Regions from separate parts of the Homo sapiens genome. Here region 1 is linked to region 2. The links come from fine-mapping of genetic effects on gene expression. A gene starts in region 2. The other region holds a variant in brackets. All regions are shown on one strand. Distances are from middle to middle.

Evidence for each region.
Region 1: its variant is fine-mapped to the expression of GSR in ileum (CEDAR, PIP 0.91).

Annotation. Positions count from the first base shown.
Region 1 is chr8:30,682,381-30,687,756 of GRCh38, reverse strand. GSR (glutathione-disulfide reductase) reads left to right here. Exons shown (of 13, transcript NM_000637.5): 10 at 3,558-3,669. Among named protein-coding and RNA genes, the nearest start is that of GTF2E2, 27 kb to the right of the region's middle. The variant C/T (reference allele first, on the strand shown) is at 3,339.
Region 2 is chr8:30,724,898-30,730,273 of GRCh38, reverse strand. It overlaps GSR (glutathione-disulfide reductase), which reads left to right and starts at 2,428. Exons shown (of 13, transcript NM_000637.5): 1 at 2,428-2,744. The coding sequence starts at 2,439. It also overlaps a transcript of UBXN8 not described here. RefSeq lists enhancers at 556-1,080, 2,843-3,530 and silencers at 2,168-2,257, 2,328-2,767.

The sequences.
Region 1 (5,376 bases), 43 kb after region 2:
GATATGCTATACTACTCTATTAGTAATAATAGGATATTTTATGTTTGAGGTGCATATATTTATTTTGTTCTGGGTTTTTTTGTTTGTTTGTTTGTTTGTTTGTTTGTTTTGAGACAGAGTCTTGCCGTGTTGCCCAGGCTGGAGTACAGTGTTGTGATCTAGCTCACTGCAACCTCTGCCTCCTGGGTTCTAGCGATTCGCCTACCTCAGCCTCCCGAGTAGCTGGGATTCCAGGCGTGTACCACCACGCCCGTCGAATTTTTGTATTTTTTTAATAGAGACAGGATTTCACCATGTTGGCCAGGCTGGTCTCGAACTCCTGACCTCAGGTGATCCACCCACCGTGGCCTCTCAAAGTGCTGGGATTACAGGCGTAAGCCACTGCGCCCAGCCTGAGGCGTATATATTTGATAGAGCTGCTTGAGCAGTGTATACCTTTTGACTTATGTTCTAATACTAAGTTCCTGTTGTAATGTGGATTCCTTTTCTGTTTCTGTAAAAGGTCATTTTTCTGCATGTTAACTTATAAAATATTCAGGGAGATGTTTTGATTGTTTGTAATCTTATTCAATGACATTTAGTAAAATTAATTGCCTATTTTCATATTAACAAAACTAGTCAGCCAGGCGCCGTGGCTCACACCTGTAATCCCAGCTCTTTGGGAGGCTGAGGCGGGTGGATCACCTGAGGTCAGGAGTTCGAGACCAGCCTGGGCAACGTGGTGAAATGCCGTCTCTACTAATAATACAAAAATTAGCCAGGCATGGTGACGCATGCCTGTAATCCCAGCTACTTGGGAGGCTGAGGCAGGAGAATCGCTTGAACCCAGGAGGCTGAGGTTGCAGTGAGCCGAGATCACGCCATTGCACTCCAGCCCTGGCAACAAAAGCAAAACTCCGTCTCAAAAAAAAAAAACCAAAAAAAAACACCAAAAGAAAACAACAACAACAAAAAACTGGTCATTCAGCTTTTCACCTTTCAAGAGATATTTTGCCATTGTACAGATGTAAGCACTGATAGGTCCAGTTTTCAACTAAATTTGCTAACTTTTTTTGGGGGGGTTGGATAGGGTCTTGCTCTGTCACCTAGGCTGGAGTACAGTGGTGCCATCATGGCTCACTGCATCCTTGCAGCATCAAACTCCTGGGCTCAAGCCATCCTTCTACCTTAGTCTCCCAAGTAGTAGGAACTACAGGCGTGGTCCACCACACCTGGCTAATTTTTAAAAAAAATTTTTGTAGACACAAGGTCTCGCTGTATTACCCAGGCTAATTTTGAACTGGGCTCAAGCGATCCTTCCACCTCAGCTTCCCAAAGTGCTGGGATTACAGGCATGAGCCATTGCACCCAGCCTATATTTGCTAAATTTTTGAAGAATGAGGCAAAAAAAAAAGGTTCAGTCTCATTTGACATTAAGATATATTTATATAATGCAAATTGAGTGATTACTATGTGCTAGGTCTTGTCAACATGTTACTAATCTAATTTAATCTTGCCAACAACCGGCAAGGTATAAGGAAGCCAGGAGCACAGAGATACTAGATAATTTACTGGGCTGTAAACTCTATGGTGTAGGGAGAATGTCTGTCTTACCATGGTATTCTCAGTGATGAAGTCAAAGTCTCATTTGTAATAGAAGCTTAAATATTTGTTGATAAACAGGTGGTTATACAAGGTCTCATAACCGGTAAGTTGCAGAGCTAGGATTTGAATTTTGGTCTGTCTGTACCAAAGGTTGTACTCTTTTTTTTTTTTTTTTTTTTTTTTTTTTGAGGCAGAGTCTCTTTCTGTTGCCCAGGCTGGAGTCAGTGGTGCCATCTCAGCTTACTGCAATCTCCGCCCCCTGGGTTCAAGTGATTCTCCTGCCTCAGCTTCCCAAGTAGCTGGGACTTGCCAAGTAGGTGGGCATGCACCACCATGCCTGGCGAATTTTTAGTATTTTTAGTAGAGACAGGGTTTCACCATGTTGGCCAGGCTGGTCTCAAACTCCTGACCTCAGGTGATCCGCCCGCCTTGGCCTCCCGAAGTGCTAGGATTTACAGGCCTGAACCACTGCGCCTGGCCAGTTGTACTCTTAAGCTCTGTGGCTACTTACTTCCTACTTCTGCCATATCTCTACTTCTCATATATACTTAGGATTTGCAAAGCCACATGATAAGCATAACATGTCTTCTTAAAGCAAAAATTTGACTACATATAGGAAAATATTTTTGGTTAAGGGAAACATCAATATGTGTTTTTGTTTTGTTTTGCTTTTACTTTTCTTCTGGGAGTCTGAAAAAAACATCAGTATGTTTTAGAGTAGAGTGCAAAAGTTGCTTGGATTTTTAAAGACAAAATGGTAAGCTTCATAGAAATGTGCTTTTGGCCAGGCATGGTGGCTCACACCTGTAACCCCAGTGCTTTGGGAGACCTAGGCGTGAGGATCACTTGAGGCCAGAAGTTTGAGGTCAGCCTGGGAAACAGCAAGACCTATTCTATAAAAAAATGTTAAAAAGGCTAGGCGTGGTGGTTCACGCCTGTAATCCCAACACTCTGGGAGGCCGAGGCAGGTGGATCACGAGGTCAGGAGATCAAGACCATCCTGGCTAACATGGTGAAACCCCGTCTCTACTAAAAATACAAAAAAATTAGCTGGGTGTGGCGGCGGGCACCTGTAGTCCCAGCTACTCGGGAGGCTGAGGCAGGAGAATGGCGTGAACCTGGGAGGCAGAGCTTGCAGAGAGCCTAGATCGCGCCAGCCTGGGCGACAGAGCGAGACTCCATCTCAATAAATAAATAAATAAATAAATAAATAAATAAATAAATAAATAAATAAATAAATAAATGTATGTTAAAAAATTATCCAGGTGTGATGGCACATGCCTCTAGTTCTAGCTACTCGGGAGGCTAAGCAGGAGGATTGCTTAAGCCCAGGAGGTCAAGATTGCAGTGAGCCATGATCACACCACTGCACTCCAGCCTGGGTAACAGAGCGAGACCCTGTCTCTAAAAAAAAACTAAATAAACATAGATATGCTTTTGGTGACTGCTTGAGTCAGTGTTCCTCAGGAGCAGTGCTTCCATGGGACAAGTTGAAAAGCTGGACTCCAGAGGGATTCCAAGTGGCACACCTGATAGTTGAGTGATCCTCTTCATGTCTGCCTGGCCAGTTGAATTGTACATTGCAATGTCAAATCCTGTTAAAACATCTCAAAAGTGGATAAAATACTACCTTTTATGTTAAGCAAGATATGAAACTTGCCAACTTTTTTTTTTCTAATTTCTAACAGAGGCAGGGTCTCACTGTGTTGCCCAAGCTGATCTCAAACTCCTGGGCTTAAGGGATCCTCCCTCTT[C/T]GGCTTCTCAAAGTTCTGGGGTTACAGGTGTGGGCCCACTGTACCCAGCTTGAAACTTGCCAGCTGTAAATGCCTTTCGTGTTGCAGCTGAGTCTCATGGTTTCTTGGAGATTCTGGCTGCAGTTCCCATGTGAAATGAGGAAGGGAGATCCAGAGGTTTGATCTACCTTTTTTAGTAGGTGGGCCAAGTGGTTACATGATATCTCTTTGTAATTTTAGGGGATTCAAACCGATGACAAGGGTCATATCATCGTAGACGAATTCCAGAATACCAACGTCAAAGGCATCTATGCAGTTGGGGATGTATGTGGAAAAGCTCTTCTTACTCCAGGTAAGGTCTCTTCCCTTCTTGGTGAGGGAGGGTCTGCGTGTTACATGATCCATCTGGCTCTTCACTGTCAAATCTGCAGTCTGCTTAAGCAAAGTTAAAAGGATGAGTGTCTTTATATTGTCAAAATGGTACAATGTGTTGAAATAGATATTGGTTGGATACCTGACATTATCTGAATAAAAGACTTAAAATGCTTAGCACAGACTGAAGTTTTCATGTAGACAATATGATCACCCGTTGCGGAACTCTCTTAGGAGCAGACTTGTGCTTGGTGGCAGTGGAAGGAAGTGGCATTTGGAAGAAGTAATTTAGATTGGCATTTTTTTTTTTTTTGGAGACACTCTGTTACCCAGGCTGGAGTGCAGTGGCATGATCACGGGCTCACTGCAGTTTCAACCTTCCTGGGCTCAGGTGATCCTCCCACCTCAGACTCCCAAGTAGCTAGGATCACAGGTGCATTTTTTGTAGAGACAGGGTTTTACCATGTTGTCTTGAACCCCTGTGCTTAAGCAGACTGCCTGCCTCAGCCTCCCAGAATGTTAGGATTACAGGCATGAGCCACCACACATGGCCTAGATTGTCATTCTTGTATGACTGGTCTTGATACAACCAAGACTGATTTCCTTCTCTCCGGCATCCCACACCTCAGCCCGCTTCCTAAGCACCATTGCAAGCTCTGTCCCATCTCTATCCATTAATGATCACTTGATCTACTTTCAGTCTGTACCTAGAACCTCATCAGCGATTCCAGCGTGTCCCAGGGCCTTATATCAGGATGAAAACCTACACCAGTCACACACCCAAACCCTTTTAGCTCCTTTAGAAAGTTCTTGCTCTTGGCTAGGTGTGGTGGCTCCCATCACTTTCAGAGGCTGAAGTTGGGGGATCGCTTGAGTCTAGTAGTTTGAGACCAGGCTGGGCAACATAGTGAGATGTTGTCTGTATTAAAAAAATAAAGATTCAGCTGGGCACGGTGGCTCACGCCTGTAATCTCAGCACTTTGTGAGGCCGAGGTGGGCAGATCACGAGGTCCAGAGATCGAGACCTTCCTGACCAACATGGTGAAACCCCATCTCTGCTAAAAATACAAAAATTAGCTGGGCGTGGTGGCACACGCCTGTAGTCCCAGCTACTTGGGAGGCTGAGGCAGGAGAATTGCTTCAACCCGGGAGGCAGAGGTTGCAGCGAGCTGAGATGGCGCCACTGCTCTCCAGCCTGGCAACAAGAGCGAGACTCTGTCTAAAAAAAAAAAATAATAATATAATAATAATGATAATAATAATAAAGATTCTAGGCGCAGTGGCTCATGCCTGTAATTCCAGCACTTTAGGGTTATAAAATAGAACTAAAGATGCTGAAAACTAATATAGCTTGTTCCATAAATATTGTATTAAAAAGCTAATATCTTCATTAAGTAGATTAACTGCCAGGTAAGTGAGAACTTGTGAATGTGTCTTTTGGGAGTGGGGCCAGACAGGTTGAGCATCCCTTATCTGAAATGCTTGGGACCAGAAGTGTTTTCAGTTTCAGATTTTGGAATATTTGCATATATATAATGAGATATTTTGCAGATGCGACCCAAGTCGAAACACGGAATTCATTTGTTTTACATACACCTTATACACATAGTTGGTAGGTAACTTTATACGATATTTTAAATGTGTGCATGAGGCATACTTTTGTCTGCGTTTTTGACTGCAACCCTTC
Region 2 (5,376 bases):
CTCTCCGCCATGTGCCCATCCTCATCTATTCCAGTATACCGCTGCTCTCTCAAGGGCATTTGTATCCCCGTTTTGGGTCTTAAACGAGCTGCCAAGGGAGGGGTTTCTCCTGAGGCTTCACCTCCTCTCTTGTCTACTCTGGGTGGCCTAGGGATATGTTTGTCTTGCGGAGGCACAAGCACTGTGGACTCAAAAGTGGGGAGCCTCTCTCCCTGGTAAGGGGAGGGCACCACTGGGATGACTTTTGCCATCTCCTGCAATGGATCGTCTGATGTTGGGTCGAACAGAACTTCAGGAGTTGATTTCCCTCGGTGGGTGGAGCGGGATCCTTCCTTGACTATCTGTCCCTTTGCTACTAGCACTGCTGCTGCCTGCCCTCTTACCCACTGTGGTAACCAAGTGTCTATGTATGGAAACTGGTCTGAGTGTCCTGACTTACCAGTTACCTTGTGCCATACCTTAGAAACAAGGGACCTGTCCAGGCTTCCTTCTGATGGCCAACCCACTTCTAATGTTGGCCAATCTATTTCACACAAAGTTCTAAGTTTCCCTGGTGTCATAGTAACCCCATAGTCGCCATTAAATCCCTTCTTAAAATTTTTCAACATAGTTCCTAGAGGAGTAGGCTTATTTTGTGTCTGACCCGTGTTTCCTCAAGACAAAACACCAAGCTCACACCAAACGCACACCACAAAACAAAGAATGGGTAAAAAGGGCACACACGCACTTTTTCAGTTTTCACCAAACCAGAATCAAAACCAAAATCAGAGTATCCAGTAATCCAAGCCAGGTCAAACCAAAACCAAAGTGTCAAGCAATTCAAGTCAAGTCAAAAACAAAAACCAAAGTGCCAGTACAGGCACGCCGTGGGTGATCAGGCCATGCTTCCACTCAAATGGAGTGGGCAAGTTCCGAAGACCAGTCTTACCAAGTTTCAAATGTCCGGACTCCAAGTGCCTGTTCCTTCCCGGTGTTCAGCCACTGCGTTGATACTCCACGGGGGCCTGCCACGCACTGCTCTGACTAGGCGTTCCACCGGGGCAATTGCCTACCCAGGAGCGCTCGCAGGATCCGCGTCGCTCAAGCTGGCGGGAGTTCCCCGCAGGGATGCTCCACAGGGCAGGCCTAAGCCCCCTAAGGGGCTGCCTCGACTGTCCGTCAATTACCTCGCTTCCCAGTCAGGGAACCAAGAAATATAGCAGGATGAGTCACAGACAAAACTCCTCAGACACCAGATTAAAGCAGGAAGAGGTTTTTTATTCGGCCAGGAGCGTTGGCAGACTCGCGTCTTGAGAGCCGAGCTCTCCGAAAAAGAAATTCCTAGCCCTTTTAAGGGCTTACAACTCTAAGGGGTCTACGTGAAAAAATCATAATAGATCAAGTAAGCGTGGGAAACGTGACTGGGGGCTATATACATCAGCTAACAGAACAAAAAGTTTTACAGTGCTTTCTCATACAATGTCTGGAATTTACAGATAACACCAATAGTTTTGGTCAGGGGTTAATAATATTATTATTATCTTAGCCACCAGGGCCAGGTGGTGGTGCCAAGGTCGTCTAGCTATTTATCTTACTTCTGTTTCTTTCCAACTTTTTGCTTTCTCCCTTTTCTCCTGTCTTATAAACTAGGGAAAAGGGGAGGTTGGGGAGAAACTGAGAAGGACAACAGGAGAAGTGGTGACCTCATACCATAATCCTAGCATTTTGGGAGGCCGAGGTGAGAGAATCGCTTGAGGCCAAGAGTTCCCTACCAGTCCTGGTAACATAGTGAGACCCTATTTCTAAAAAAAAAATAAAAATAATAAAAAAAATAAAAAAAAAAATTAAATAAATAAATAAATAAATTAGCTGGGCGCTGTGGCGGGCACCTGTAGTTCCCAGCTACCGGGAAGGCTGAGGAGGGAGGATCGCTGCTTGAGCACAGTAGGTGGAGGCTGCAGTGAGCAGAGATCGCATCACTGCACCCCTGCCTGGGGGAGAGTGAGACCCAGTCTCAAAGAAAAAGCAAGAACAAACAAAAGTGGTCTCTGGAACAAACCTGGACAAACAACCCTTCGAATAGAGGCAAATTTCTCTTCCTGGAGAAGCCGTGCCACTGGCAACTCCCCAGGGGGCCAGCTCGGGAAAAGCCAGCTGAAACGAGAGGACGTTCACCGTTCCTCGCCTCGATCCACCGGACTTCAGAAGGCTACACGCGGCAGGCGCCGCTCGGGATCCAGGGGCCGGGGTGAGAACGGAGGCGGAGAAACCCCTCAGGCTCCGCCACCGGGGCGGGGAACTGGGAGGCGGCCCCGCCTCTGGGCATCCTCCTGGGTCTTGCCTAGCGGCGGGCGCATGCTTAGTCACCGTGAGGCTGCGCTTGCCCGGGGCCCGCGCCCCCCTACCCCGGGGACCGCCCCCGGGCCGCCCGCCCCACTTGGCGCGCCACTTCCGCGTGCATGGCCCTGCTGCCCCGAGCCCTGAGCGCCGGCGCGGGACCGAGCTGGCGGCGGGCGGCGCGCGCCTTCCGAGGCTTCCTGCTGCTTCTGCCCGAGCCCGCGGCCCTCACGCGCGCCCTCTCCCGTGCCATGGCCTGCAGGCAGGAGCCGCAGCCGCAGGGCCCGCCGCCCGCTGCTGGCGCCGTGGCCTCCTATGACTACCTGGTGATCGGGGGCGGCTCGGGCGGGCTGGCCAGCGCGCGCAGGGCGGCCGAGCTGGGTGCCAGGGCCGCCGTGGTGGAGAGCCACAAGCTGGGTGGCACTTGCGTGAGTACCGCCGGTTTGTTCGGGCGGGGGGCGCCTCTTTGTCTCGGTCTTTCGGGGGACAGCCTGTGCTCGTTCCTATGGCGATCCTGTCCCCCGGCGCTGGGCTTTCCTCTTTTCCACCCCCGCAACTCCCCATTCCGAAGCCAGGAACCCAGCAGGTGGAGGAGAGAGAGGCGTCCGGGGGCTTCTCTGCGGCCCGCAAAGCCGAGCCAGCGTCTGCTTCCGCACGGATGCGATATTGACCAGGGCCGGGGCGGGTTAGATTAACCTTCCTCCATCCTCACTTGTCCAAGTGGGAGAGGATTGGATTCTGTTCTTGACCGCGTGAAACACAAAACTGCATCTGGGAACATTGCTGGTGGCCTGTGTGTAGGGACGAGGGTGACGGTGCCATAGATCCTGGTTCTTGAAAAATGTAGATCCTGGTTCTCCCGTTTCAAGGGCAGAATGATTTATAGCGGTTGTTGTCAACCTTGGCTACACATTCGAATCACCTGAGGGTGCCTGGATTCCCGACTTAATTGGTCTGAGGTGCACTTGGGCTTTGGGATGTTTCCCGACTTAATTGGTCTGAAGTGCAGCCTGGGCTTTGGGATTTTCGGGTGATCTGAATTGCAGCCAAGGCGACCTTGAGTAGGTGAGTTCTCAGAGCTTTTGTTTTGTCTTGGTTTTATGTGGATTGCAAAACTAAAAACAGAGGGATGTAAATCCTGAGATTTACAAAATTCATAATTTTTGAAAATAAGGGTTTTTGTTTGTGTTTGTTTTTTGAGACAGGGTCTTGCCCTGTCACCTAGGCTAGAGTGCAGTGGCCATCATAGCTCACTGCAGCCTCGAACTCCCGGGCTCAAGGGATCCTCTCACCTTGGCCTCCTGAGTAGCTGGAACTACAGGGGGCTAATCACCACGCCTAGTTAATTATTATTATTTTTTGTAGAGATGGGGGTCTCGCTATGTTGCCCTTGCTGATTTCAACCTCTTGGACTCAACCGATCTTCCCGCCTCAGCCTCCCAAAGTGCTGGGATTACAAGCCTGAGCCACTGCACTCATTCTAAAAATAAATGTTGTTTCCAAGTTATTGGTGTGCCCGCCCTTTTCTATCACAAGATTTGGGTGTTGACGATTAAAATGCTGTATCCAAGAGGAACCTGGGATTTGGGATAGGTTCTCTAAATTCCTTTGGAGATGAATATTTAAATTATGTCAAATTGGGAGCTCTTTAAGGACAGGGATGGGCTTCTGTGTTTGTGTGTCTCTTATCACCTTAAAATCCCTTGCTCAATAAGCACTTGTGCAATGAATGAAACTAAAAATGGACAGTTATGAAAAGGTTGACTTCATTGTTCAGTGCCTTGGAGATGAACATGGAGATGAAGAGAAAGGAAAAATCTCTGTTAATTATCAACTTGCACTTTGACACCATAGTCCAGACAGAAGGTTAGAAATCTGTCTCTCCAGAAGGCAGATTGTGGGGTGCCACTAAGTGCCCCCCTCCCACACCTCATGAGAGTACTTGATCACTTCTCACTTCTGTTCTGCTCTCCACATTTTCTCTGTCTTCCTCTTTCTCTACTTATGTTATAATGTGCTTCAGAGGTTCACCCACTTTACCTTCCTGTTATGAATTCTTTTTTTTTTTTTTTTTTTGAGAGGGAGTCTCACTCTGTCACCCAGGCTGGAGTACAGTGGTGCAATCTGGGCTCACTGCAACCTCTGCCTCCCAGGTTCAAGCAGTTCTCCCGTCTCAGCCTCTCGAGTAGCTGGGAATGCAGGTGCATGCCACCATGCCCGGCTAGTTTTTGTACTTTTAATAGAGATGGGGTTTTGCCATGTTGGCCAGGCTGGTCTCAAACTCCTGACCTCTGGTAATCCACCCACCTTGGCCTCCCAAAGTGCTTGGATTACAAGCATGAGCCACCACACCCAGCTAATTTTTTATTTTTAAAATGTATTTATCTATTTTTTTTTCGATATGGAGTCTTGCTCTGTCACCCAGGCTGGAGTGCAGTGGTGCAATCTCGGCTCACTGCAACCTCCGCCTCCTGGGTTCAAGCAACTCTCCTGCCTCGGCCTCCCAAATTGCTGAGATTACAGGTGCCACTACACCCAGCTAACTTTTGTATTTTTAGTAGAGCCAGGCTGGTCTTGAACTCCTGACCTTGTGATCCGCTCACCTCAGCCTCCCAAAGTGCTGGGATTACAGGCGTGAGCCACCACGCCTGGCCTGTTTTTATTTTATTTATTGTTTTTTAGAAACAGGGTTTTGCCATGTTGCCCAAACTGGTCTCTTATGCCTGTGCTTAAGCAGTCGGCCTGCCTTGGCCTCCCAAAATGCTGGGATTACAGGCATCAGCCACCACTCCTGTCCCATTTTTTGTATTTTAAGTGCTGGGATTGGGGGTGGGTAGGGAGAAAACGATAGATATAAACATTTGTGAGACATGTCCCTTCCCTTAAGGAATTTTGTGGTTGTGAAAGAAAAAAATATTGGAACCCCAAAGTATGCCAGAAGGAAAGTTCAGCTTGGGAACTGAATCACACAAATACTGCTTTTCCTTTTGTTCCCAAACAGACAGCTGTAATTTCACAATCCCATGTCATAGCCTTATCTCCTCTACTCCTGCTTTTCAC